Homo sapiens: one gene and its partners. The protein of the gene in region 2 interacts with the protein of the main gene of each other region in a pairwise test. Each region holds a gene or a part of one and is shown on either strand. Other genes may lie near its edges.

Region 1 (7,435 bases), on a different chromosome or scaffold from region 2:
ACTGTGATCACAGGCATGAGCCACTGCACCAGTTCACTTTGAATTTTCTGTCTCATGATGCTGCCCAGTCTGGTCTTGAACTCCTGGGCTCAAGCGATCCTCCCACCTCGGCCTCCCAAATTGCTGGGATTACAGGCATGAGCCACTGTGCCCGGCAAACGTCTCTCATAAAAAACTCCTTCTTTTTAACTCTTTAGCCTTTTCACAGCCAGATGTGGTTTTTTGTTTGTTTGTTTTGTTTTTTGTCTTTTTTTTGTTTTTGAGACGGAGTCTCGCTCTGTCGCCCAGGCTGGAGTGCAGTGGCGCGATCTCGGCTCACTGCAAGTTCCGCCTCCCGGGTTCACGCCATTCTCCTGCCTCAGCCTCCCGAGTAGCTGGGACTACAGGTGCCCGCCACCACATCCGGCTAGTTTTTTGTATTTTTAGTAGAGACGAGGTTTCACACCGTGTTAGCCAGGATGGTCTCGATCTCCTGACCTCGTGATCTGCCTGCCTCGGCCTCCCAAAGTGCTAGGATTACAGGTGTGAGCCACAGTGCCCGGCTCTTTTTCTTTTTTTTTTTTTTTTTGACAGAGTCTAGCTCTGTCACCAGTCTGGAGTGCAGTGGCGCAATCTCAGCTCACTGCAACTTCCGACTCCCTGGTCTAAGTGATTCTCCTGCCTCAGCCTCCCGAGTAGCTGGGATTACAGGCACGCACCACTGCGCCGTGCCCAGCTAATTGTTGTAATTTTAGTAGAGACGGGTTTCACCATGTTGGCCAGGCTGGTCTCGAACTCCTGACCTCGTGATTCGCCCGCCTCGGCCTCCCAAAGTGCTGAGATTACAGGCGTGAGCCACCGCAGCCGGCCCGCACTCAAGACATTCTTAAAAGATGCTCTCCACTCACTCTCTCAGTTGCTGATCTCCTGTAATCTGGCTTCTCTCCCCATGAGCCACTGAAGCTGCTCTTCCTGGTATCACCAACAATCCCTTTGCCAAGAAATCCCATGGATCCCTCTCAGGCTTTATCTGATTTGACTTCTGTGCAGCTTTACATGCCAGAGCCCTTCCTGGAACACTCACTCCCCCAGTCCTCTCCTTGGGGTGCTGCACCCTCTCTTCTAGCTGCTTGGTCACTCTCCTGCCCTCCTGGGCTCTAACGTTCTGGGCAGCCTGTCCTGTGGGGAGAGAGGAGCTTCCTCTTCTCACACTTCTGTATTGTGGCTACCTCAACACCTATCTCCGCCCCAGGATCTTCCTTGGAGCGCTAGTCCTACTGCACTTCTCCACTTCAATGTCTCCAGGTTCCCTTCCTGCACAGCCCCCTACTCCCACCGTGTTCTCTGATTTCTGTGGATGGAACCACCATCCATCTTGGTTCCAGAGCCCACATCCCTGTCTCGATTCTGCTTGACCTATTGGGTCCGTTCCATGTCCCGGGGACTCTCTCTTCCTGACACCACTGCAATGTGTCCACTTCTATCTTCTGCCACCACTTCAGCTCAGATCGGTAGCATCTGCTGCCTGTCCTGTGCATCTCATGGCATTATTCCTGCTGTCCTGCAGACCAGTGCGGTTTTGCTAGCTTAGGAACATGACTGTGTCACCCCTACAGTTCCGACAACCCTTCATTTCAAGCCCATCTGCCTTGCTGTGGTTACTCAGGCTCTTTGGACTGGGCCTGGCTTCCTGCCTCTCTTCTCCTCCCCTCTTGCCCCAGTGTACTCCTCAGCTTGGCCACCCTGAGCTGCTTTCCACTTTTCACACAAACCAAATCATCTTTTTCCTCTGCGCTGACTGCTCCTTCTTCCTCGGTGCCTGACTAGCCCTCACGCATCCTTCCGTGACTCAGCTTACACTCTTTTCTTCCAGAAACCTCTGCCTGGGCCCCAAGGTTGGGTGAGATAAGGCTCGATGCCCCTTATCAGTGCTCCTGTGACATATGCTACTTTCCCCAGCAGCAGGTGTTTGCTGGCACTGTCATTGCCCGTTAGCTGCTTCTGCTACAGTGTGAACTCTGCCAGGATGGAAATATGGCTGCTGGGTTCACAGCTGGATCCCCAGCACCAGACTGTGCCAAGAATAGAATATGTGCTTAAAAGATGGTCAGAGAATTCAGCAACGTTCCCTGAGGGTCATACAGTCTAGAAATACACACAAGACCCAGACTAGATGCACATATAGATAGCCCTGGAAAAATAAGAAAGGTTAAAACGGATAATAAGGCTATTTGGTGGCTACGACGAGTTTATTAGAGAGGGCAACCGGAGCCCCCAGCCCCACTCACGGACGTTCTCTCAAATCCACCTCTGAAGGTGCATGAGATAAAGGAGAGCTATTTACTGCACCTAGACGCCAGGCAATGAAAACGGGGTGAGGGTCGAGGGCAGGGATCTGAGGAGCCACATCAGGCCAGCCTTACCTTCATGTTGTCAGGGGGGTCTCCTTGGCCTGTAGTTGCACAAACAAATATCACCAGGGGCTCGTTAATCAGATTCACCTCAACAAAAAGACACACACACGTAAGACCTCCGGCTGTAAGGACCGGGCGTCCTTCCCAAAACTTGACCCCCTTCTCCTTTACTCAGGCTGACAGGGCAGAGGGATTTATGTGAGCAGCCAGACCGTCTTCTCTTTCAGGTTCCAACCTCCTCCAGGTGCTAAACTGAACTCCCCTTCCCAAACCTCCTTCCCTAAATCCGCCATAAGGGAAAGACCCGCTCTCAGAGAAAATGCGACGCCTTTTGGGTCGATGACCCCGCGAGGCGGGCACGCCAGGCCTGCTCGTCCCCCACGCCGAGGCCCTAGCGAGCCCTCACCACCGGGTAGGAGTCCAGGGCCTGCACCCGGCAGCCAAGCCGCCGGCGCCGGGCCTCGCGACCCAGTCTCTCCGACACATCCTGAGCCGTGCCTGTCTGGCTGCCGAAGAGCACCAGAAGCTGCGGGCTCGGCATCGGGGTGCGCCCGGTGGTCTGGTCTGAGACTAAAAACTAGAAGGCAGTTCCCGCCGGCCGGGTTGCAGGGACCGCTCCGCCTTCCGCCTTCCGCCGTCGACCGGAAGTGACGCACTAGGGACGCGCCCTGTGGGGGCATGGCGTCCGATCGAGGCGGGCGTTCACGGGCGGCCAGGGTTGAGTCCCGGGTCGGGGCCGGGGGATTGCCGGCGCATCAGGGCCGAGGGCTGGGGCTGGCGGGGCCGCTCGCTGCCTCTCGCTCGCAGCAGCGGCGGCAGGCGCGGGCGAGGGCCACGGGGAGAGGAGACGCAGCCCCGCGGGTGGCACGCTCGGCCGGGCCCCGGCCCGCGCTCAACGGGCGCGATGCTCTTCTCGCTCCGGGAGCTGGTGCAGTGGCTAGGCTTCGCCACCTTCGAGATCTTCGTGCACCTGCTGGCCCTGTTGGTGTTCTCTGTGCTGCTGGCACTGCGTGTGGATGGCCTGGTCCCGGGCCTCTCCTGGTGGAACGTGTTCGTGCCTTTCTTCGCCGCTGACGGGCTCAGCACCTACTTCACCACCATCGTGTCCGTGCGCCTCTTCCAGGATGGAGAGAAGCGGCTGGCGGTGCTCCGCCTTTTCTGGGTACTTACGGTCCTGAGTCTCAAGTTCGTCTTCGAGATGCTGTTGTGCCAGAAGCTGGCGGAGCAGACTCGGGAGCTCTGGTTCGGCCTCATTACGTCCCCGCTCTTCATTCTCCTGCAGCTGCTCATGATCCGCGCCTGTCGGGTCAACTAGCCTCACCGAGGTGCCGGAGAGGGAGCGCTGGACAACTAGAATGTTGACCTCGAGCCGAGGCCCTACTTGCAGCGCACCGGAGGAGAGGCTCTCTAGTCTGAAGGCACCGCCGGCTTGCGCCGAGCTGAGTGCCGGGTTTCCCTATTCCAATCCTGTTTGAAATGGTTTCTTCAGCAGGGCTTAAAAGAGCAGCCTTCATCCTGAAAATGTATTTCCTTTTGTTTAATGCTTTGAGTAGATAATCCTGAATTGAGGTCATGAGGAGGCCCCCCAGGCCAGACAGTCCTGAACCCCTCTGACACTTGGAAACTGAATATAAGTAAAATGTCCAGGTGGACTCTGAGTATTTCCTGTGGATCCTGGGAAAGTACTGTTGCACAAAGGCTGCAAAGCTGGACTCAGGAATGTCCTCCAACCAGCAGCGCTGACCTAAGAGCTCCCTGTGCCGTCTATCCAGACCAGACTTCGGTAGATGCCTTTGTTAGATCTATCACATGTAAACGAGCTTGTATCTCCTTCCCTGTGCCACGAGAGAGATTGGCTTTTTATTCCAGTCTAGGCAGAGACAGAAGAATGTTGAATAAGAGCACGATTAGAGTCCTGTCTGGTTATCTGTTGCCCAAGAAAAGAACTCTGCTGTCCAGGCACTGCTTGGCTTACTATCCCAGCAAAGACTGCAGTTTTGTGGACTTTTGACCACCTTGGGCTGGCACTCTTAGCACACCTGAGACAGATTTAAGCCTCCCTAAGAGACTGAAGAGAGGAACAGGTGTCAGATACTCATAGGCACTGAGATCTACAAATGGGAAGCTTGTGAGTGGCCCATCTTTGTTGGCCTACGAACTTTGGTTTGATGCCAGTCAGGTGCCACATGAGAACCTTTGCTGAGATGCAAATAAAGTAAGAGAATGTTTTCCTGAAATGAATAGTGGTTGCCTGTAACCCTCAAGGGTTAAATAGGATGAATATTGAGATACTCTCTGCTACGTGGTGTAGCTGGTTACAGAGCTGCGGTTTTAAATGGATTGAAACCTGTGGCTAGAGCTTAGTGGATGGTGGTGGTGGGAATCACTTGTTCTGGAGAATCCCTCCTTCCTGCTCTAGGAGGTGGGTAACTCAGGCACCCCCCCCCCCACCCTGTATGAAGACAACAATCTGGGCTCATGTTAAAGACCCATTGAATAGTTTGTGACCCCAGAGCCCATGACTTCTTGCCAGAGTGTGGTCTTTGTGGGCCTTGTTGGCACTCTGTAGAGCAGGGATCAGCAAACAATGTCCTAAGGCCTGTTTTTGTATGACCCTTGAGCTGAGGATGGTTTTTACACCCCTAAATGATTAAAAGCAAAAGCAGGCCAGGCGTGGTGGCTCACGCCTGTAATCCCAGCACTTTGGGAGGCCGAGGTGGGTGGATCACAAGATCAGGAGATCGAAACTATCCTGGCTAACACGGTGAAACCCTGTCTCTACTAAAAATACAAAAATTAGCCGGGCGTGGTGGCGGGTGCCTATAGTCCCAGCTACTTGGGAGGCTGAGGCAGGAGAATGGCGTGAACCCGGGAGGCGGAGCTTGCAGTGAGCCGAGACAACGCCACTGCACTCCAGCCTGGCCAACAGAGCGAGACTCTGTCTCAGAAAAAAACAAACAAACAAAAAAAAAAACAAAAGCAGAACTTGTGACAGAGAGTGGATATGACCCTCAGAGTCCAAGGTCTCTTAATTGGCACTCTTGGCCTTTGGGGCCAGAAGATTCTCTAGTGAGGATGCAGTCTGTTTCGCAGTGCTCCTGCCTCTCCTGGGTAGATGCCAGTAGCAGCCTTCACTTGTGACAAGCAGATGTTTATCCAGACATTGCTAAGGGCCCTGGGGAACAAAATTGTCCCTGGCAAAAACCAGTGGGCTAAAATATTTCCTGTCTGGGGCCAGATGCGGTGGCTCACGCTTGTAATCCCAGCACTTTGGGAGGCGGAGGCGGGCAGATCACGAGGTCAGGAGTTTGAGACCAGCCTGACCAACGTGGTGAAACCCCGTCTCTACTAAAAATACTAAAATTAGCTGGGCATGGTGGCGCATGCCTGTAATCCCAGCTACTCAGGAGGCTGAGGCAGGAGAATTGCTTGAACCTGGGAGGCAGAGATTGCAGTCAGCCGAGATAGCACCACTGCACTCCAGCGTGGGCGACAGAGCGAGACTCTGTCTCAAAAAAAAAAAAAAAAAAAAATTTCCTATCTGGCTCGTTACAGAACAGGTGTGCTGACCTCTGCTCTCATGCATCAGCCTGGCCAGCGGAGTGCGGTGTCAGCCTCTGCCTGGCGTGTATGCTTAGTTGTGTAAACCATGGAGGGGCTTGCGTTGGAGGCAGCTTATCTGGTTTGTTGCTACGACACTGTGTCCAGCCTGGGATTGGCATAACTTTTGTCAAAGCCAGATTCAAGCTGAACAGTGGGAGTGAGTTTCCTCGTAATGTTATTTATTTCTAGATTTTGTGTTTTGTGTGTTCCCCTGTTTTATTTTGGTAGTTCAGAATTGGGCAACCCTACTAGGGTAGAAGTGATGAACATCAGATGCTTCCTTTAGAAAGGTGATTTGAGGAGGGCCCTAAGGGAGGAGACACTTGGCTTCTGGAAAGCTGAAATGAAAGTTTATTCTGGCCAGGCCCAGTGGCTCACGCCTGTAATCCCAGCAGTTTGGGAGGCCAAGGCAGGCAGATCATGAGGCCAGGAGTTCGAGACCAGCCTGGCCAACATGGCGAAATCCCGTCTCTACTAAAAATACAAAAATTAGCCGGGCGTTGTGGTGGGCACCTGTAACCCCAGCTACTTGGGAGGCGAAGGCAGGAGAATCGCTTGAATCCTGGAGGCGGAGGTTGTAGTGAGCCGAGATCGTGCCACTGCACTCCAGCCTGGGTGACAAGAGCAAGACTCTATCTCAAAAAAAAAAGAAAAAGAAAAAGTTTATTTTCTCCAGCTTAATGGAGTGGCAGGAGAATAAGGCAAGCATTAAGCTAGCGGCTGCTGCAGACTGTCATGGGGCACAGAAGCTGAGAAGGGCATCCCCAAGTTAAAAAAAAAAAATCTGTTCTGCATCATTGCAGAGACCCAGGCGACCTTGGTGTGGGAAACAGCAGTGTCTACTGAGCAGGCTGCTGACTGCAGGGCAGGTGATGGAAAGAAGGTGATGTCCGTGCACTCCAATTCCCCTTCTCCCCGTGACTCCAAGCGATCTCCCTATTGTCTGCAGGCTTGAAAGGCTGTGGAAGCACTCTGAAGCCCTCCCTGGGGCAGAAGGGACTTGTCAGCCGGGAGGCTGTGCCCTCAGGGTCATGGTATCCGGAGCCTTGATGAGGGGACGTTCAACCGATGGGAGAGGAGTAACCTTAACGTGGCAGCAGGGTGGAATAATCAGACACAGGGGTCGGCCCTATGGGGCCCACCGTTACCCTGGCTTTTTTTTTTTTTTTTTGGCTCTGAATGCATTGGAGAGCTCTCCAAGCATGCAGGGCCCTGCCCTGGTGAACCTGCTTGCGTGTGGCGGGAGAGGCTGCTTCCTTTGTGCCTGCTCCTGCAGATGCTTTTTGGGGACCACGGATGGCAAGGTTGGGTTAAGAGGCTCCCACCTGGGCAGCCTATAAAAACTAGGGATTTCTGAGAAACTGGTTCGTTGGGGCTGCTCGGGGCTCCAGAATTGGCATTTCCAAGCCCCGCAGGCACCTGCCGGAGGTCGGAGGACC
Region 2 (7,252 bases):
AATGGTCCTTGAATTCAGCTCCCGCGGGTGGGTTGGGGGGTGCTTAACTTGGTTCTGGTGGGGAGAGAGATGGAAGGAGACAAACTCTTCCACCCACTCCTCCCTATCCTCCAGCAGCCTGGGAGGCCTGAGGAGCTGAGCCCAGTTCTGCCCTCTAGAAGGGCCGTGTGTCTGAAAAGTCACACTAGCTGGAGCGGGGCTGGGCTGGGAGGCAGGGTGCCTGGCTGCCCGGATCTGTCATTTGGGCAAGTTACTTGACTGCAGTGGGGCTATTTCCCAGCAGTTTCACAAGGACTTTCAGTTAAAAATGGTCCCCCATGTTCCTTCTAGTTTCAACATCTAAACTTGCCTGAGAGTTATGGCGGCCAGGGGAAAGCTCTTTCACAGGTGAGGAAGCACACTCAGAGAAAGTAAACCTCTTGTATGAAAGCACACAGCTTAGCTAGTGAGGCCAGGGCTGGAACTGGAAGCTGGGTCTGTCTGACCCCACACTCTTGCTGTCTCTGCTGTGCTCTAACCATGCTTCCTTGGATGTGGATCCCTTCTCTGCTCCACAGTGGATGCCCCCCTGAACTCATAATCTGAGTATCCATTGGTGGCAGCAAGAGGAATTATGTTCTTTGGAGCAGAGAAGCATTCCAAAAGATGACACAAAAGTCAGAAATCATTAAAAAGGGATAGGTTTGATTACATTTTAAAAATCTATACTAACTTCTATAATGGTCCAAAATGCCCTGCAATACAAAGAAAAGAAAAAAAGGAGAAAATGTTTGCTGCATATTTAAAAAAGGATTAATATCCCTAGTATACAAAGAGCACTGAAACCTATAAACATTATCCAATTTAAAAAACATGAACTGGGGATTCACAAAAGAAGAAACACAAATATGTATTATATATACATGATGAGCATCCTTTTTTTTTTTTTTTTTGAGATGGAGTTTTGCTCTTTGTTGCTCAGGCTGGAGTGCTGTGGTGCTATCTCGGCTCACTGCAACCTCCGCCTCCTGGGTTCAAGCAATTCTCCTGTCTCAGCCTCCCGAGTAGCTGGGATTACAGGTGCCCGCTACCACGCCTGGTTAATTTTTGTATTTTTAGTACAGACGGGGTTTCACCATGTTGGCCAGACTGGTCTCGAACTTCTGCCTTGGCCTCCCAAAGTGCTGGGATTACAGGAGTGAGACACCAGGCCTGGCCAACGTCCTTTTATTTTTGAGGCAGAATCTCACACTGTTGCCCAGGCTGGAGGGCAGTGGCGTGATCTCGGCTCACTGCAACATCTGCCTCCCAGGTTCAAGCGATTCTCCTGCCTCAGCATCCTGAGTAACTGGGATTACAGACGTGCACCAACACACCCAGCTAATTTTTGTATTTTTAGTAGAGATGGGGTTTCACCATGTTGGCCAGGCTGGTCTCAAACTCCTGCCTCGGCCTCGCCAAGTGCTGGGATTACAGGCGTGAGCCACCACCCCCGGCCATGATGAGCATCCTTATAGGCGATTCTACCCAGCTATCAAAAGCGCTTCTCAAAGCTACTAATCAAAGCAACCTTGGCTCCTCCTCAGGACTCCCACGCACACTCCCCAGATCCCCAAATCCAGCTCTGTGGGGCAGGTGGGGACCAGCTGGCAGCTTAGGGTGCCAGGTCAACCTGGTGACCGGTTCTGAGTGTGTGGCATTACAGAAAGAGGCTTAATGGGGAGGGCAGAGTCTGCAGGGGGTGGGGGGCAGCTGTGGGCAGAGAACATCAGGAACCAGAGACATCAAAATCAAGAGTAATGAAGTGGAAATCACACTAGGGCCTGGGCACCCCCAGCTATTTGGCTTATTCAACCTGAGTGTAACTACAAAGAGGGTATCCCCCATTTGCAAGTATCTGTGTGCCTTTGGTCTCAGCTCCTTCTGCTATCCCTGTGGGTTAACACCATCTAGGGCAGGGGCTCAGCCTTGCTAGTGAGAGGAAGGTAAGGGGTCCCTTACATTCAACTGTTTACATCTCATCACACTGAGATTCTAGTCCCTTCCTGACAGAGCCCTGCTGCTGGGCCACAGCTTTTTATTAAGCACCCACTATGTGCCAGGCACTGTTCTGAGTGCTGGGGATACGGTGATCAACAAAACACACAAAAATCCCTTCTCTTCAGAGACCCAAGCATCTGTGTTCCAGGACAGGGGCCTAGGCCCCAGAAAATCAGGGCCAGGGATTGGAGAGCATGGGGGCAATGGGGGCATCAGGGCTGCCAAGCCAGCAGCCTGGGAATCTCCTGGGAGATCTTGGACAGGGGTAATGAACCATCTCAGTGGGCTCTCAGACTGTGTGACCCCAGCAATAAGAGTGCAGAAACAACCAGGTAAGGGTGGTCAGCATTGACAACACCTGCAAGTACACTGCATTCCAGTTCCCGTGTGGCCCAAGAGTATAGGGCAGCTAACCTGGGAGAGCCACAGAGACCACCTCACTCCCCATTTCACAGCTGTGAAAACTGAGACCCAGGGAAGGGAAGCTTTTGTCATGATTAAGGAGCAAACAAAACTTTGAAGGAAGGACTTTGAAGGAGGGACGGATTCATGCAGGTGCATGGCCCATGCCCCTGGCCTTACCTTTTTGTTTTTCAGTCCCATCCTCTTGAGGCCAGGAGTGTCTGGCCTTGTTTAACAATCTTGGGGATGAGTACTTGGTATCAGTGGGTGATCAGGAATCAGTCCTGCCCAGACAGCTGGCCTGGGCGTCTTGGAGTCCTTATGGGTAGTAGACAGTATGGAGGTCAATGTGGTCTCAGGGGTGCCACACACCAGCCCTGGGGCCTGGATGTGGGGGGAGGGGGAGGGTGGCCAGGTGGGAGCAGGTCCTGGATCTCTCAGCAGCGAGATGGTCTGTGGGTGGAAGGGCCTTGGGGGTTGAGGGCCATGGCCAGCTGGACAGGGTCAGCAATGAGGCAATTGACTCTTGGCACACCTAGGACGGTGGAGAGATGGGGCAGGGGGGCCCTGTCTCTGCCCAGGCCTGGAAAACAATAAGCTCTTCCACCTAGCTGGGTCACCTGGGCAACACTGTGTGATGTCACAGGGCAGGGCCGAAGTCACACAGGCACCTGTCCAGGTGCAGTGAGCTAGAACGCGAAGCCCTTTTCCCTATTCCTGGAGCTGTGTTCCACCTGCCGCCTGGCACTCAGGCCCCACCCTTCCTGCTCTTGGTGCCTCAAGTAGTCTCCACCAACCCTGTGGTGTGGCCAGCCCCATGCTGCTCAAGCTGCAGCAAAAGAGGAAGCAGACACTGCTCTCAAGAGTGTTGCAGCTTGATCGGTAAAACAGCTACTTCTGTTGAAGAATCTACCAGCCATCGTGCCTCTTTGGGTACCTATAGTCTTCCATTTATTTGATAATAATAAACACAAACTTCAAGAGGATGGTTTCTTCTTGGAGGGTGGGTGGGAAGATCGGGGAGAGAAGAGGGTAAGAGCATACATTCTAAACTTTTGGGTTTTTAGATTGGGTGGTCAGTTAATGGAAATTCATTACATTATTGAAAATAAATTATAATTAAACAATTAAAGAAAGCCATGATGGGTCAGTGATGGCACTAGAGTACGAACCAAAGATTATGGTTCAGTTCTGAGCACTGCAAGAAATTATTACAAAGACAAAGAGCATTTGCTGCACGCCAGGCAGGGTCCTAAGTGCTTTTGGTGAGGTGAGATGGCAGAATGAAGAGAGACTAGTCCTTGGCCTGGGGTGGGGGGTTGCTCTATAGAGAGGTGAGGTCTGAACTGGGCTTCGAAGAATGATCAGAAATCCTGGGCTAGAAGAGGAGGGATTTGGGGTACTGGGCAGTGTTCAGAAGTGTTTGGGGGGCCCCTGTGGCCTGCCTCATTTCTACCTATTTTGGGCCCCAAGTTGGAGATTCTTTTAATCTGGCCGAAGAGCAGGACCAGCCTGGCAGCCAGGAGGCAGGAGACTCCGGCTTTGCAGAGGCCTCCCAGCCTCCCTCTCTACCCCCACTCCAGAGAGAGCAGCAGCAAGGATGTGGTTCTCCCCAGTTTAGAGACAGAAAAACTGAGGCTTTGCTTTTGATTAGAACTGAAAGGACCAGCCAAGGTCACCCAGACACTGGTGGGGGATGGTAGTCAGGAACCCCACTCCTAATTTTCTCCCCGTCTAGGCCTGCCAAGAGTGGTACTCCTGGGGCTCTGGGGCTGGGGGCCTGACCAGGAATGGCCTGGCTGTGAGCACTGTGCTTTATCTCCCTTGTGGGCCAACATGTCCCAGCACAGTGTGTATGTGTGGAAAGGTCTCAGTGGCTGCTCCCCCAGTCTCTCTAGAGCGCATCTCCCCCAACCTCTCAGGCCTGCTTAGTCTAGGAGGCTAGGGCAGCAGGTTCAGGGGGTGGGGAGCCATTGCTCCTTCTCTAGCAGCAGGACTGAAGATGCAAGCCAGGTGCCTAGGAAGCAAACTTTAATGAAGCACTCATTCTCAGGGCTGTGCGAGCGCTCCGCTCCCGACACAGAGCCTCACATTTTGTGCCCTGGCCACCTTGCCTGCCTCACTGTGGTCCTTGCCCTGCCCTGCAGCTCTGCCTCAGTCCCCGGGGCTCGGGGCTCTCACCCAGCTACCCTCCTTGGCATCTGAGCTTTCTGCCTCTGCAGCCACGCCCCTGCCATCTTCCTGCCTGGGAAGATAATGCGATTGGGCACTGGTTCCAGGCCGTCTGGCTCCAGGGTGCAAGTGGGCCCTGTGCACTCAGCAGCCACCAGTAGGGCCCTTCTACCTCCTGACTTGCTGGTTGTTCACCTCCCCAGACCAAGGACCCCTGAGACACCAGCTCCTGTGCCTGTCCTAACCTCCCCCGAGAGCTGCTTCCTCCTTGCCTGTGAGAAGGCCTTAGCAGCATGAGCCCAGCTGCTCTACCTTCTCCTCCCCTTCCTCCAGCAAGGTGAGCTCTATATCCCCAGCCCAGAGAAGTGGGCTTGCTCCTCAAATGTCCAGGGGCCAGCCCCAAGCTGTGATGATTCAGGGAGATTCCAGGGTGAGGGAGAGCAGGGAATGATTAATCTCACAGCTAATAGATAACTGTGCCCACCCCCTACCCACAGGAGACAGCACTTGGAGCTATATCACTAGGAGGGGCCAGGGGTTAAATGTGGCCACTAGAGAGCCCATAGTTCTGGGAGGGGCAAGCCCCTGAGGCTGGATCTGGGGCTGGCTCTTGGGGAAGGAGGGATCTTGCTGGCTGGACAGCAAGAAGAATCTGGGTAGACAGATGTGGCTCATAGTCAGCCCTGCTTCCTCATGCCATGTCTGGGGCCTGGAGTCTGAGGAAGCAGCCTGTGAGGACAAACTACCCATGCAATGAGACTCAGGGGAGTGTGTCTGTCTTCCAGAGACGCCCCCGCCTCCTGACTTGGCCTTTCCTTCCCTGTGAGTCCTGTCCCACCCCCACATTTGGGCAGCTGAGTTGGATGAGGTGGGAAATGTAGGCAGTGTGATTTTGTAGCAAATGGCAGCTCAAAGCTGTGTGATCTTGGGCAAAATGTTAACCCTTTCTGAGCTTTGGTTCCCATCCTTATTCAGTGAGGCAATCAGGGCTGCTCTGTGGGCTGAATGAGACCACGCAGGTAAAGCTCTTAACACGGATGGTTATGAGCTCCAGGCATGCTCGCTTTTCCCTGCTAACCAACCTTGGGCTTGGCAAGTTCTCTCTAGTGCAGCTCTGGGTGGCAGTGACTTCAGTTTAAACCCAGCTCAGCACCTTAAGGGGTGGGGTGTGAACTGGCCTCAAGGGGCCCAGTTAGAGCCCTTGTGGAAGCACAGGGCAAAGCCAGCTCTCCAATCTCTCTGCAGAAACTCCTGAGGCTGAGCCTCATAACTTATATGAGGTCAGAGCAGCCCTCGAAGGTCCTGGCCAGCAGCCGGTGGATTCAGAGCGGGGAGCCCTCTCAGAGTTTTCCATCCTTCAGCCAACAAGTGAAGACCTGCTGTCTACACCACTGGGGCCGAGGGTGCGTGGCAGTGGGAGCATAGAGACCCTCTAAAGGAAATGCTTCAGTAGACAACAGTCAAAATAATCAAAGGAGGGGCAGGGACTTGCCCTGGTCCCACGCCCCTGCCTCATGTTTCTTACATACCAGGAGTGAACTTGCAGCTCCAGAAGCAGCACACACACAGGAGGTGTTGCTGTGGACCAGGAGGACTGCACACACGTTCAGAGCAGGAGATAAAGGGGTCGAGGAAGGCCTCCGGGATGAAGGGCCTTGAGCAGGACCCTGAGAACACATTGGATTTAGGTAGGAAAGGGGACATTTCTGTTGAAGGGCTACCTGAGAAAGGTGCGGCCATGGGCGTGGGCCTGGAAGCCGGGAACAGAGAGGGGATAGAGAAGAGGGCAAGTGGGCCTGGGATGATATCTGGTCTGGGTGGGTGTGAAGGCTCAAGCGCTGGTGGAGACATGCAGACTTCACCCCATGGCCATTTCTCACTTCTCTGGCCCATTCCAGTGGGGGAGAACTCACCAAGTCCAAAGTTGGTTAGCAGGGAAAAAAGCAAGCACGTCTGGGGGACTTCACTGTCCGCGTTAAGAGCTTTACCTTCATGGTCTCATTCGGCCCTCAGAGCAGTCCTGATTCTCCCACTGGATAAGGACGGGAACCAAAGCTCAGAGAGGGTTAACATTTTGCCCAAGATCACACAGCTATGAGCTGCCATTTGCTATAAAATCACACTGCCTACATTTCCCACCTCATCCAACTCAGCTGCCCAAAAGCAATGGAGAAAGAGTGATAGGGAGATATGGGGGAAGGGGCAAGAGTCAGGAAAAGAGAAGGCCAAGTGTGGGGGCTCTGGGAGAGAGGCACACTTTCCTGGACTCTGCCTGGCAGCCAACTCTCTCCATACAAGTGCCTTTCCAGGTTATGGTCATTGTTCCCTCTTGTCTCTTCAAACCTAGGAGTCAGGGAAGGCTTCTCACAGGTTCCAGCCCCCAAGGCGCTGTAGTCTCCCTCTTGTTTTTCCTAAACCCCACCCTCAGTATTGTAAATAGTCCCTTTATTAAACTCCCCTCAAGCTCCTGAATTTGAATGCCTTCTTTTTCCTGGCAGGACCCTGGCTGATATACCTGCTGTGTGAGCCCCTCTCCATGGCCCAATCTCTCGCCCCGCCTGATGTCCTGGTATTACTGCTGTCATCGTCACCACCAGCCCCTTCACACCCCCAACTTTTAGTGAGCACTTACTGTGTGCCAGGTCTCATGCCAAGAGTT
Region 3 (6,100 bases), on a different chromosome or scaffold from region 2:
CTGCCACCCTGAAGGGGGACAGCTGGCCACTAATCCAAGCTTGGCTGGGTCGTTCCAAGCTCCCCTTTCCCAGACTCAGCCAGTCCTGGTGTGGAGGGGCAGGGAGATGTGACTTATGCAAATGACATGCTAATTCATTGCCTGCTATTAACCTGACACGTCCCACAGCTCCTGGGCCCCCAGGAGAAAGCTGGAACTGGCCACCATTGGCATTCATTCTGAGTTTCTCTTGAAGTACAACGCCCCCTGAGTCCCAGACTATTACCTTTGCTATGCCTGTCCCCCACCCAGAAACCCTTTACCTTATTTTATTTATTTATTTTTGAGACAGACTCTCCTATTTTGCCTAGGCTGGTCTTAAACCCCTGGGCTCAAGCAGTCCTCCTCCCTCGGCCTCCTGAGATACTGGGATTACAGGCAAGCTCGACCACATGGAGTCCAGAAACCCTTGACCTTAGCTTTGAGTTAGTAGCAACTCGTCATCCACACCCTGAATCTGAACCATTCCAGCTTCAGTCTCCCTCCTTTTTGTTTTGTTTTGTGTTTTATTTATTTATTTAGAGACAGAGTTTTGCTCTTATTGCCCGGGCACGATCTTGTTGTTGGCGCGATCTCGGTTCACTGCAACCCCCGCCTCTCAGGTTCAAGCAATTATCCTGCCTCAGTCTCCCGAGTAGCCGGGATTACAGGCATGTGCCACAACACCCAGCCAATTTTTGTATTTTTAGTAGAGACGGGGGTTTCACCATGTTGGCCAAGCTGGTCTCAAGCTCCTGACCTCAGGTGATCCTCCCCGCCTCAGCCTCCCAAAGTGCTGGGATTACAGGCATGAGTCACCACGCCTGGCCTGTTTTTTTTTTTGAGACAAGGTCTTACTCTGTGACCCAGACTGGAGTGCAGTGGCGTGATCTCAGCTCACTGCAACCTCCACTTCCCAAGCTCAAGTTACCCTCCCACTTTAGCCTCCTAAATATCTTTATAGGCACATGCCACCACGCCTGGCTAATTTTTGTATTTTTTTGTAGAAATGGGGTTTTGCCATGTTGCCCAGGCTGGTCTTGAACTCCTGGGCTCAAGTGATCTACCCACCTTGGCCTCCCAAAATGCTGGGATTACAGATGTGCACCACTGAGCCCGGCCCCCTTCAGGAAAATCTGCCAGCCAAACCCAGCATCTCCCTGGGAAGGGGCTGCCAGGAGAAGCTCTGTCCAGTCCCCATGAATCCCTCCCTGGGCTTCGGGAGACAGGCCAGTTGGAACTTCAGCTGTGGCTATGCAACCTCACGGACCCCCGAAATGCGTCAGTCCCAGGGACCTGGTCCCATAGCCCAGGTTGCTTCTGGCCTGACCCCACTGATATGAAGTTCACATTCCACTTGGTGCCAGGCCAAAGACACCTGAGTCTTTCTTCATTGCCTGGCCACACCCCATCAGGCCCTGGACACCCATGTGCACCAGCTTCCCTCACGCCAAATGTGCCCCAACATGCCAAATCATGCAACATGACATGATGTCACTCCAGGACAGTTTATGACATGCCACAGCTGTCTGGCATGTCCAGACATGGCTGGGTAAGGGGCCTACAGAAAGGTGTCCCCAAGCTGGGGAGGCGGGAGGGGAGGCCTGGGCTTCCCCAGGGCCCTTGCAGTGGCTTCGAGCACCGCCACCTCCTCGGCCTGCTGAGCCTCCATGAGTGCCATCTGCTGCTCCAACTTCCGGCGTTGCTCTTCCTGCTTCCGGTGGGCTCCTCGGAAGGCCAGGACCAGGGCGCTGGAAGGGGTGGGTGGCTGGGTCAGGAAACAGCCCCCGAGTCCACCCAAGGCAAGGGCCGTGTACTCCCACTCCCAGAATGGGGGCTCTTTCACATTGGGTCTCCAAGGGTCCCAGCTAGCTGGTCTTTTGTTGTTGTTGTTGTTGTTGTTTGAGACAGAATTTCGCGCTTGTCACCCAGGCTGGAGTGCAATGGTAAGATCTCCCCTCACTACAACCTCTGCCTCGAGGGTTCAAGTGATTCTCCTGCCTTAGCCTCCCAAGTAGCTGGGATTACAGGCGCCCACCACCACGCCCAGCTAATTTTTTTGTATTTTTTAATAGAGACAGGGTTTGACCATGTTGCCCAGACTGGTCTTGAACTCCTGACCTCAGGTGATCCGCCTGCCTCAGCCTCCCAAAGTGCTGGGATTACAGGCGTGAGCCACCATGCCCAGCCTGTTTTTTCTTGTTGTTGTTTTTTGAGATGGGGTTTCGCTCTTGTTGCCCAGGCTGGAGTGCAATGGCACAATCTCGGCTCACTGCAACCTCTGCCTCCCGGGTTCAAGCGATTCTCCTGCCTCAGCCTACCGAGTAGCTGGGATCACAGGCATGCGCCACCACGCCTGGCTAATTTTGTATTTTTAGTAGAGATGGGGTTTCTCCATGTTGGTCAGGCTGGTCTCGAACTCCCGACCTCAGGTGATCTGCCCACCTTGGCCTCCCAAAGTGCTGGGATTTCAGGCGTGAGCCACTGCGCCTGGCCCAGCCTGTTGTTTTTTTTTTTTTTTTTTTAGACAGAGTCTTGCTCTGTCACCCAAGCTGGAGTGCAGTGGTGTGATCTCTGCTCACCACAACCTCCACCTCCTGGGTTTAAGCAATTCTCCTGTCTCTCAAGTAGCTGGAATTACAGGCACGTGCAAAGACGCCTAGCTAATTTTTGTATTTTTAGTAGAGATGGGGTTTCACCACGTTGGCCAGGCTGGTCTCAAACTCCTGACCTCAAGTGATCTGCTGGCCTCAGCCTCCCAACATGCTGGGATTACAGGTGTGAGCCACCACACCTGACCGTTACTGCCTATCTTGGGGCAGTGGGGAATGCTAAGGCCCAGAGACAGCCAGGGATACTTCTGATATCCTGGTGGGGGATGGTGCCAGGGGGATTGGGGGGATGCAGAACAGTCCTACCTGTGGGCTTTGCATAAATCCCTGTTCAGCTCGGCACTCTGAGACCGTCTGGCTCGCCCCTTCTGAGCCACCTGTTCCAGCTCCCTGCGCAGAGACTGCAGCTGCTCCTGCAGGTCCAGTGTCCTGTTGCGAAGGAGAAGAGAGGGGGCTCACAGCCCCAGCCGATCCTGTTTCCCAGGTCTCCTCCTACCCACCTGCCCACAGTATTGTCATGTAAACACACCTGTACACCGGGGTACACCTTAGCTTCTACTGCAGACGACACCCCCGGGGGCTCTCACATAGGCTGCCTGCCCACCCCCCGCACAGCCCAGGACCCAGGCACACACCTGGTGAGCGATGCTGCCAGTTCCTGGGCTAACTTCTCTGGGTCCCAGGCTCTGCCCACCTGGCCACCATCAATGCCACTGGTGCCACCAGGGACAGCAGGAAGGCCCTAAGGGAGGCAGAAGACAAGAAAGTGACATTAACCTAGGCCAAGTCCGTGCTTGGCCCACACTGGACATTGGAGCTGCCCAGACAGTGGCAGCTGCTGTGCTCTCAGAGACCCACATCTGGTTCGATATACCAATAAGAGCAAAATTATACTCTGATAAGGGAAATATCCTATTTAATTAAAAAAAATTTTTTTTGAGACAGAGTCTCACTCTGCCACCCAGGCTGGAGTACAGTGGCACGATCTTGGCTGACAGCAACCTCCGCCTCCCAGGTTCAAGCGATTCTCCTGCCTCAGCCTCCCAAGTAGTTGGGATTACAGACACATGCCACCAGACCCGGCTACTTTTCGTATTTTTAGTAGAGACGGAGTTTCACCATGTTGGCCAGGCTGGTCTCGAACCTCATCTCTAAAAATAAAATTTAGGGGCCAGGTGTGGTAGCTCATGCCTGTAATCCCAGCACTTTGGGAGGCCAAGACGGGTGGATCACTTGAGGTCAGGCGTTCAAGACCAGCCTGGTCAACATGGTGAAACCCTGTCTCTACTAAAAATATAAAAATTAGTCTGGCATGGTGGCAGACCCCTGTAATTCCAGCTACTTGGGAGGCTAAGGCAGGAGAATCGCTTGAACTTGGGAGGCGGAGGTTGCAGTGAGCCAAGATCATGCCACTGCACTCCAGCCTGGGCAACAGAGTAAGATACGGTCTCAAAAAAAAAAATTAGCCAGGCATGGTGGCGGGCACCTGGAGTCCCAACTAACTGGGCGGCTGAGGCAGGAGAATCACTTGAAGCTGGGAGGCAGAGGTTGGAGTAAGCTGGGATCGCAGCACTGCACTCTAGCCTGAGCAACACAGTGAGACTCTGTCTCAAAAAAAAAAACAACAAAAAAACAAAAACAAAAACTAGAGATCCACTGGAAGTCCTTCCTCCTGTCTAATCCTTGTTTGAAATAATAATAATTTTTTTTTTGAGAAGAGTCTCGCTCTGTCGCCCAGGCTAGAGTGCACTGGCGTGATCTCAGCTCACTGCCAGCTCTGCCTCCCGGGTTCACGCCATTCTCCTGCCTCAGCCTCCCGAGTAGCTGGGACTACAGGCGCCCGCCACCATCCCCAGCTAATTTTTTGTATTTTTAGTAGAGACAGGGTTTCACCGTGTTAGCGAGGATGGTCTCGATCTCCTGACCTCGTGATCCGCCCAACTCGGCCTCCCAAAGTGCTAAGATTACAGGCTGGGATTACAGGCATGAGCCATCGTGCCCGGACAGTAATAATTTTTTTTTCTTTTTTTTTTTTTGAGACGGAGTCTCGTCGCCCAGGCTGGAGTGCAGTGGCGCAATCTCGGCTCACTGCAACCTCCACCCCTCCAGGTTTAAGCAATTCTCTGTCTCAGCCTCTGGAGTAGCTGGGATTACAGGCACGTGCCACCATGCCCAGCTAATTTTTTTGTATTTTTAGTAGAGACAGGGTTTCACCATGTTGGCCAGGCTGGTCTTGAACTCCTGACCTCATGATCCACCCGCCTCGGCCTCCCAAAGTGCTGGGATTACAGGTGTGAGCCACCGTGCCTGGCCAATAATAATTTTTTAAAAATTAGGCTGGACGTGGTGGCTCACGTCTGTAATCCCAGCACTTTGGGAGGCCGAGACGGGCGGATCAGCCTGAGGTCAGGAGTTTGAGAGCAGCCTGGCCAACATGGTGAAACCCTGTCACTACTAAAAATACAAAAATTAGCTGGGTGTGGTGGTGCACGCCTGTAATTCCAGCTACTCGGGAAGCCAAAGCAGGAGAATCGCTTGAACCTGGGACGCAGAGATTGCAGTGAGCCAAGATCGCACCACTGCACTCCAGCCTGGGTGACAGAGCAAGATCCGTTTCCCAAAAAAAAAAAAAAAGAAAAAAAAAATTAAAGGCCAGGCGCTGTGGCTCATGGCTGTAATCCCAGTACTTTGGGAGGCTGAGGTGGGCAGATCACCTGAGGTCAGGAGTTCTACACCAGCCTGGCCAACATGGTGAAACCCCATCTCTACTAAAAAATACAAAAATTGGCCAGGCACGGTGGCTCACGCCTGTAATCCCAGCACTTTGGGAGGCTGAGGCAGGTGGATCACAAGGTCAGGAGATCGAGACCATCTTGGCTAACACAATGAAACCCCGTCTCTACTAAAAAAATACAAAAAAAATTAGCCGGGTGTGGTGGCGGGCGCCTGTAGTCCCAGCTACTCGGCAGGCGGAGGCAGGAGAATGGCGTGAACCCGGGAGGCGGAGCTTGCAGTGAGCCGAGATTGCACCACTGCACTCCAGCCTGGGCTACAGAGCGACACTCTGCCTCAAAAAAAATAAAAAATAATAATAAATAAGCCGGGTGCAGTGGCTCAAGCCTGTAATCCCAACACTTTGGGAGGCTGAGGCGGGCGCATCACCTGAGGTTCAGAGTTCGAGACCAGCCTTAGTAACATGGGGAAACCTCATCTACACTAAAAATACAAAAATTAGCCGGGCGTGGTGGCGCGTGCCTGTAGTCCCAGCTACTCAGGAGGCTGAGGCAGGAGAATCACTTGAACCCAGGAGGTGGAGGTTGTGGTAAGCCAAGATCGGGCCATTGCACTCCAGCCTGGGCAACAAGAGCAAAACTCTGTCTCAAAAAAAAAAAAAAGAGATGAGGTCTCGCTGTGTGGCCCAGGCTGGAGTGAAATGACATAATCGTGGCTCGCTGAAGCCTCCAACTCCG
Region 4 (7,025 bases), on a different chromosome or scaffold from region 2:
AGGTTTTGTGAAACTGAAGCTGATAGGATCTGAGGTCGTCTTTACAAAGGACACCAAATTGTCAGAAGCCATCAGGGACGGGGCCTCAGAGCAGCCAGGCAAGTGAGGGGTCTAAAGCACCAGCTTGGGAAGCGTCACTGCGTGGAGAGCGGGCTCCTGGGCTCATCGCCCGAGGCACCCGACACAAGTGCAGCCTACAAAATGGAGAGAAAAGCCCTTGATGAATGAACTCCCTAAGGCCAGGCTCGGGTTCCTTAGAGACTGGGGGCACAGCTGCACCCGGGCAGGGTCGGGGAGACAGTTTGCAGCCTCTGGGCTGAGGCTGGGGTGGGGGTGTGGAGGGGCTGTGGCAACAGCATGGCGTACGCCTCTGGGTGTCCTTTTGCAAGTAGGTGATGAGAGAGGCACATTGGCTGAGGGAAACTGGAGGATGGAAGGGGGTTGAGGCAGGGGAACTGACAGGAGAGGAAAGAGCCTTAAGTCAAACAGGACCGCGGAAAACCAAGCGTCCACAACGAGAACGAGGGGTCCGTGCCTGACCCCTGGCGGGGAGGCGTGGTACTGCTCGAGGTAGGCGCGGACTCGGGGAACCGGGAGCCCCCCAGCCTGCCGCGAACTCTGCTGGGCCCCAGCGTCCTCATCTCCCAAATAATGGGTAAGGGGCGGGGTAAGGTCATGGTACCCAAGTAGCTGGACAGACGCATTTTATAAAAACATCAAGTTCATGGAAAAGCGTTTCTTACCTGGAAATTCTTACCTCCTAAATTGTCCTTAACCCTTGACATCTGCTACCACTTGCCTGCGGGAAAACATTAACCTAGAAGACAAAATAACAGGTGTATGTAACAGGCAGCAAATGACTTTGAACAGAGCCCCTGGGCATAGCTTATTACGGTGTCCGCCATGGACATGGGTACTTGCAGCTGTGAATGGCTATCTGCTTGTAGGAGTAAGAGATACCCTCTTTAGCCAGAAAATAAAGCCCCTAGTCACTCCAACGAGACTAGATTTCTCAATAGTCCATGACAAAGGGTCCCCGAGTGACCAGATGCCCAAGTGGGGACCTACATGATTGCTGAGAAACTGTGCTGCCTGCCGCAGGGCTCTGTGATTCCCTGGCTGAGTTTTGCAGGATAGTGGGGGGATGCCAAGGTCAGAGTCAGATGGAACTTACAGGGGAGGCTTCCAAAAGCATGGAGGTTGAGATGCAGGGAAAGGAAACTTGTGGAGGGAGTGCTGATAATGAAGAACAGAATTGGGGAACTTTTTTCAAAGCTTTAAAATGAGGCCCAAATCCCAGTCCCGTTTTTTGTCTTTGTGCCTTACTTCTCGTGTGTGTCTTCATGAACCCTCCAGGTGCCTTCTCCCTGTCTGTGAAGGATGTCACCACCCAGGGGGAGCTGATCAAGCACTATAAGATCCGCTGCCTGGATGAAGGGGGCTACTACATCTCCCCCCGGATCACCTTCCCCTCGCTCCAGGCCCTGGTGCAGCACTATTCTAGTAAGAGGGGGCGTGCAATGGGGGCAGGGACTTGTGCCAAGAGCCCCTGGATCTCTCGCTAAGATTCCCAATTGTGTGAGTCATTGGTGCCACCTTGGGGGATGGAAAGATTATCCCAAAGTTAGGCCTAAGGAGGTAGCAACTCTGAGCACCGGGAATTGGTGGCCCTAATTCCCTCTCCTGGCTCAGCAGGGAACCCCTTAGAGAGTAGCAAGCATTTTCAGTCTTAGAGTGAGCAGGTCGATTTTAGAGATAGCATGCCCTGCTTTGCGCAAACGAAGAGAAAGAGTTGAGTGTGTGTGCATGTGCAGGCGTGTGCACACACCCATGCAGGGGGTGGGGTGGCTGGGGAGTGGAGGGCCAGCTAGGAATGATACAGCTCCCAAGGTAGAGCCTGGCTGCTCTGGTAACCCCCAGCCCTGTCTTTTCTTCCCTAATGCAGAGAAGGGGGATGGTCTATGCCAGAGGCTGACCCTGCCCTGTGTGCGCCCGGCCCCGCAGAATCCCTGGGCCCAGGATGAATGGGAGATCCCCCGGCAGTCTCTCAGGCTGGTCAGGAAACTCGGGTCTGGACAATTCGGCGAAGTCTGGATGGGTGAGTGTGTGCACACGTGGGAGCATTTCTCCCCCCATTCCACCTGCGCCGCATCCTGAGTCCAGGTTCAGCATTTTCATAGCGTGTCATCCCTCCCCCAGAAGTCTTGAGAGGGAGCGAGGACAGAGGCGAGGACACTCATTTTACAGAGGAGGAAGTGGAGGTGCAGAGCCGCGTTGTAACAGCTGGGACCGCTTATGGTGGTGGCAGAGCAGGAACAGAATCCAGCTCACCCAGCCCCGAAGTCGCTCCCTCCTTCGTTCTCTGCCTGAAGCTGGCTTTGACAATGAGCTGCAGCGGCGCGTTAACTCCCCTTAGCTTTTCATCACCCAGATGGAAACAGGAGGTTAAACGTGATGAGCCATGATGTTCCAGAGCCTGAGTGCACACCGAGGGCAGCCGTGGGACTTTGGCCAAGTCACTGAAGCTCCAGGCCTGGTGTCCTCACATTTCCATCGCTGCTGACACCTGCCCCCTTCCCCCCCCCGCCCACCAGGATATAAAACTCGTGTTCCGTTTTATCCCTGGATTGGTCCATGAGTCCTCCCTTACCTGGGGCTGGTCCATGAGTGCTCCCTTACCTGGGGCTGATGCCCACGGTGCTTTTGGCAGGAGCTGTACCCAGGTCCCTGCCAAGGCCCATGTCCTCTAGAAAAGCAAGTAGAGTTGTCTTTTGCCCTTCAGGGGACTTCATGGAGTACAGGGAGAGTGTGGAGATACAGATAGTTTAAGGAGTGGGACAGGATCGCCATGGGGCTTCAGAAGGAGGGAAGGAGACCCCCATGCGTCATCCTCCTGCCCAGTGTACCCCAGGCTGTGTGCTTATTTCCACCAAGGAGTTATTGTGTGATAGAAGAGACTCATTATGTAGGGGAGGGGTGGGGGAAGGACACAGGTTCCGTGCAGGACAGAAGGACACAGGCCCAGGGTGTGGGGCAAATAGGTGAAATGCCCCCCAGGCAGGGTACATTCCTCCACTGCCTGAGGCCCCATATAGAAGGGACCTGGAACGCAAGGTAGGCACCACACAACCATGGCCTCCGGAACTGCATGTTCCAGCTCTGGCACCTGGAATGGGGTGGCACCTGGGCACTTACCCCGATTTTGGTTAAGGGATCACCTCCGAGCAAGCTCTCTGTCTTCTGATTGGCTTCTTCACTCCCCCGGGCTCAGGTTACTACAAAAACAACATGAAGGTGGCCATTAAGACGCTGAAGGAGGGAACCATGTCTCCAGAAGCCTTTCTGGGTGAGGCCAACGTGATGAAGGCTCTGCAGCACGAGCGGCTGGTCCGACTCTACGCAGTGGTCACCAAGGAGCCCATCTACATTGTCACCGAGTACATGGCCAGAGGTGGTGCCCCCCGCAGAGCCGCATCCTCAGAGCGAGGCGGGAGGGCCGGGCTTAGCAGGAGGAGGAGGGTCCGCTGCGGTGGGTTCACCAGGCCAGGGGGTCCTGCAGATCTAGGGCATGGCACGGTGTGGGGACAGGGAGGGATGGAGGGAGGGGGAGGGACAGAGGGAGGGTGAGAAACAGGAGGGTGAAGTGGTTCTGACAGAGCCATGTTCTCAGCCCAGGAGCAGTTCAGACAGCATTTCTGGAGTGCATCTTCTGTGCCTAGCACTCTTTGATGCCTGCTGGGAGGGACAGAGCATTGCAAAGTCAGACGAACACCAGGCCAGGCATGCAGGGACAGTACTAGATCCAGGTCTCCTGCCTCCTGGTCATGCAACCATTTACAACTGTGTGAATATTTTACAAGGATGGCCAGAGAGGTTGGGCTTGATGGCCTCTGAGGTCCACGGCGTGGCCAAGTTCTCATGCCACTTTCTCACCCTCCTATGACCCTGACCGCACACTGCTCCTATAGGATCCTAACATGCCCATGTTGATATAGCTCCCTAACAACTGTCACCAAGGGGCCCCCGGTCGGAGGCTGTGCTGGGGGTGCCTCTAGCCTGCCCCTAGGGCAAGCATCCATCCCTCCCAGCTTTCTGATTCCAGGGGGAGCTGCATTTGTCCCCTGCACCAAACCTGGGGGACAGTTCTCTCCATTCTGGTGCTTTCTTGCTGATGCCTGGTCCTCAGAGGCAGAGGGTGTCTGCCAGCAGGGATCAAGGGAGCGAGGCCAACACGGGGGGAAAGACAAGAAGGGGCATGAAACTTCGAGTCAGAACTGGGGTCCCACTCCCAGCTCCCGGCTGGGTGACTTCAGACAGGTCCCTGCACCTGGCTGAAACCTAACTTCTGGGCAACTGCTGGTATATTGGCTGCCTCCCGGGGTGCTGAGACTGGCATTTTGTAAAGTGGAAGGCACTCGGCAGCAGTAGGTAGATCCTTCCTGATGCACCGAGAGATCTGAGGGTGCAAACTCCCACTTCCCGCGCCCATGGGGAGCCACTCACACCAGAGAGAGGCTGGCACCACCAGGGGCGGGTCACTTTGCAGAAGGGCACTTGCAACTTCTCTTTTCTTAGGATGCCTGCTGGATTTCCTGAAGACAGATGAAGGGAGCAGATTGTCACTCCCAAGGCTGATTGACATGTCGGCGCAGGTTGGTGAAGTACCAGGTGCAGAGAAAGGGCGGCATGTGCCACCTGCTGCCCACAATGGCTGCTCGTGCCTTACCACCCCATCCTCTCAGCCAGCAGGAGAAGTCAGGGGGTACTGAAGGCCACCTTCCTCTAGGCAGATATCCCCAAGGTCACCCACTGCACTTGGACTTGCAAACCCTGGCCACTGTGCCTCCTGCCCCACGCAGCTGTGAGGGAGCCCAGGGAATGGAGCCTTAGACCCGGGCTGCTGTGTTGGAATGAGGCTATTCTGTTCCGAAGGAAGAGAGGGCGAATGAATGTCATGGGAAACACACAGAGTTAGCAAGAGTTCCATTGAACCCGGCAGGCAAGTGTGTTCTGTTGTGACCTCATCTCTTCCTTAGATGGTGCCCACAAACATCTCCTGTAGGACTTCCCATCCCAGGGGCCCTCAGCCTTTGCACAGCCCTGGCGTCGACCCCAGGCTGATGGGCAGGCCTGAGCTACACACAGATGCCAGGGACATGACTTCTCTGAGCCCTGGAGGACAGCCCCACCTTCTGCCACCAGGGAATTGCGAGTGCTGGACCTCCTTGGCTACCCAGGACTGGTCCTCAGTGTCCCTCACGTTCACATGCAGAACTTTCTGGACTCCATGGGGTGAAGAGCAGAGTGGAGAGGAGGGTTTTAGCCGAGAGCTCTAGCTGGCAGGAAGCACATCTGGTGGCCCTGTTAAAACTGGAACTCTCAGCAGAAAAGTTTTGGTCTGTGGTCAGCCTGTGAGGCACACACGTGCGTACACATACACACACACATACAGCTGCCACCGAGAGGAAACGCTCCCACCCACCGCCCACATCAGCCCTCCCACCTCGCCCCTCGCCCAGCCTTACCCAGTAGCGCCGCTGCAGGAACTGATGCCACAACGCCTTTTTCCGCTGAGGTGGGCAGACAGCCATCTGGGCAGGCTGGTTTTGGAAAATGAGTGCTGGTAACCGGCTTCAAACCCCAGGGCAGTGATAAGCCTGCCCACTGCTGCTGCTTCCTTTCCCCTTCCTTCTCTCACCCTCCGCTGTCTCCTATTCAATCCCCACTACACCCCCTTGGGAAATCTCGTGTGACCCAGGGGCAAAGGATGTGAAAAGCCATCGGAGTTTAATACCTGGATGTAGCCACAGAATCGGGGGTGAGGAGCCAGAAAATCAGAACTTCCCAGAAGGGCAGCCTCTAACCACATGCTGACCATGCCAATGGCTCTCTAAGCACACATGTACACACACACACTCTCACACACATAAAAACACAGACTCACACACACACGGACAAACACAAACACATACACAGACTCACACAGACACGCAAACTCACACACAGACAGACACACACACAGACACACAGACTCACACACACAAACTCACACAGACACACAAATACACAGACTCAGACTCAAACACAAACTCACACAAACACATTTACACAAACTCACAAACTCACACACACAAACACACACACAAACACGCAAACTTACACACACATGAGCAGACACACACCCGGCCCTTCTGGGCTCTTCTTTTCTTACTCCATAGGAAGCCATGCAAAGTCTCGCCAGACCTTTCTTCCAAGGCCAGATCTGGCCAACCCCACAGGAACCCTGCAATCACAATCCCTCGGGCCCCACTTTGCAGCCAGATGCCACCGGTTCCCATGCCCCATGCCTCGCCACCCCTCTACCTCCTCTGCCCAGGAAGCCTTGAACACTTCCCACCTGGCAGAATCCTTATCATCATCCATGGCTCAAGCGTAATGTCATTTCTATGAAGGTTTCCCTGGACAAGAAACTGCCAGAGAGCCCTTAGCTCAGGTGTTCCCGGAAGCACTGTTCTTGCTCAGCAGATCTGGGCAGCTTCTTCTTGAAAGCAGATCTGGGCCCTACTCAACATTTTTTAAAATATATTTCTGGTACTGTTCAATAAATATTAGTTATCAGAACGAGTACTGTTAGATGCTGCCCAGATATATTTAGTACTCAGTTTTATATTCCCCACAGTCCCATATTAGTAAATGAGTATTGATTGCATGGTGTAGCAAGGGGATGGATGGATGCATGGATGGGTGGATGCGTGGGTGGGTGGGTGGGTGGGTGGGTGGGTGGATGGATGGATGCATGGATGGATGGATGGATGGATGGATGGATGGATGCATGCATGGATGGATGAATGGGTGGATGGATGGATGGGTGGGTGGGTGGGTGGATGGATGGATGGATCCATGGATGGATGGATACATGGAAGGATGCATAGATGGATGGATGGATGGATACATGGATGGATGCATGGATGTGTTGATGGATGGATGGGTGGGTGGATGGATGGATGCATGGATGGATGGATGCA

What was found.
Region 1: the proteins of CCDC33 (region 2) and NDOR1 interact in a two-hybrid assay, tested with the Homo sapiens proteins (2 studies listed by BioGRID and IntAct).
Region 3: the proteins of CCDC33 (region 2) and USHBP1 interact in a two-hybrid assay, tested with the Homo sapiens proteins (2 studies listed by BioGRID and IntAct).
Region 4: the proteins of CCDC33 (region 2) and BLK interact in a two-hybrid assay, tested with the Homo sapiens proteins (3 studies listed by BioGRID and IntAct).

Annotation. Positions count from the first base shown.
Region 1 is NC_000009.12:137,201,277-137,208,711, reverse strand, and holds the start of NDOR1 (NADPH-dependent diflavin oxidoreductase 1), read right to left. Parts: upstream 3,013-7,435; 5' UTR 2,935-3,012; coding exon 2,800-2,934; intron 2,481-2,799; coding exon 2,403-2,480; intron 1-2,402. Other genes in the region: TMEM203 (transmembrane protein 203), read left to right, coding at 3,298-3,708. UniProt on the Homo sapiens protein: NADPH-dependent reductase which is a central component of the cytosolic iron-sulfur (Fe-S) protein assembly (CIA) machinery.
Region 2 is NC_000015.10:74,232,090-74,239,341, reverse strand, and holds the start of CCDC33 (coiled-coil domain-containing protein 33), read right to left. Parts: upstream 3,017-7,252; 5' UTR 2,623-3,016; coding exon 2,602-2,622; intron 1-2,601.
Region 3 is NC_000019.10:17,248,646-17,254,745, forward strand, and holds the end of USHBP1 (harmonin-binding protein USHBP1), read right to left. Parts: intron 3,373-6,100; coding exon 3,266-3,372; intron 3,060-3,265; coding exon 2,937-3,059; intron 1,770-2,936; coding exon 1,580-1,769; 3' UTR 526-1,579; downstream 1-525.
Region 4 is NC_000008.11:11,553,387-11,560,411, forward strand, and holds part of BLK (tyrosine-protein kinase Blk), read left to right. Parts: exon of another isoform or gene 1-194; intron 195-743; exon of another isoform or gene 744-817; intron 818-1,356; coding exon 1,357-1,503; intron 1,504-1,945; coding exon 1,946-2,098; intron 2,099-2,199; coding exon of another isoform or gene 2,200-2,465; exon of another isoform or gene 2,466-2,476; intron 2,477-2,679; exon of another isoform or gene 2,680-3,271; coding exon 3,272-3,451; coding exon of another isoform or gene 3,452-3,529; intron 3,530-4,503; exon of another isoform or gene 4,504-4,575; coding exon 4,576-4,652; exon of another isoform or gene 4,653-4,879; intron 4,880-7,025. UniProt on the Homo sapiens protein: Non-receptor tyrosine kinase involved in B-lymphocyte development, differentiation and signaling. B-cell receptor (BCR) signaling requires a tight regulation of several protein tyrosine kinases and phosphatases, and associated coreceptors.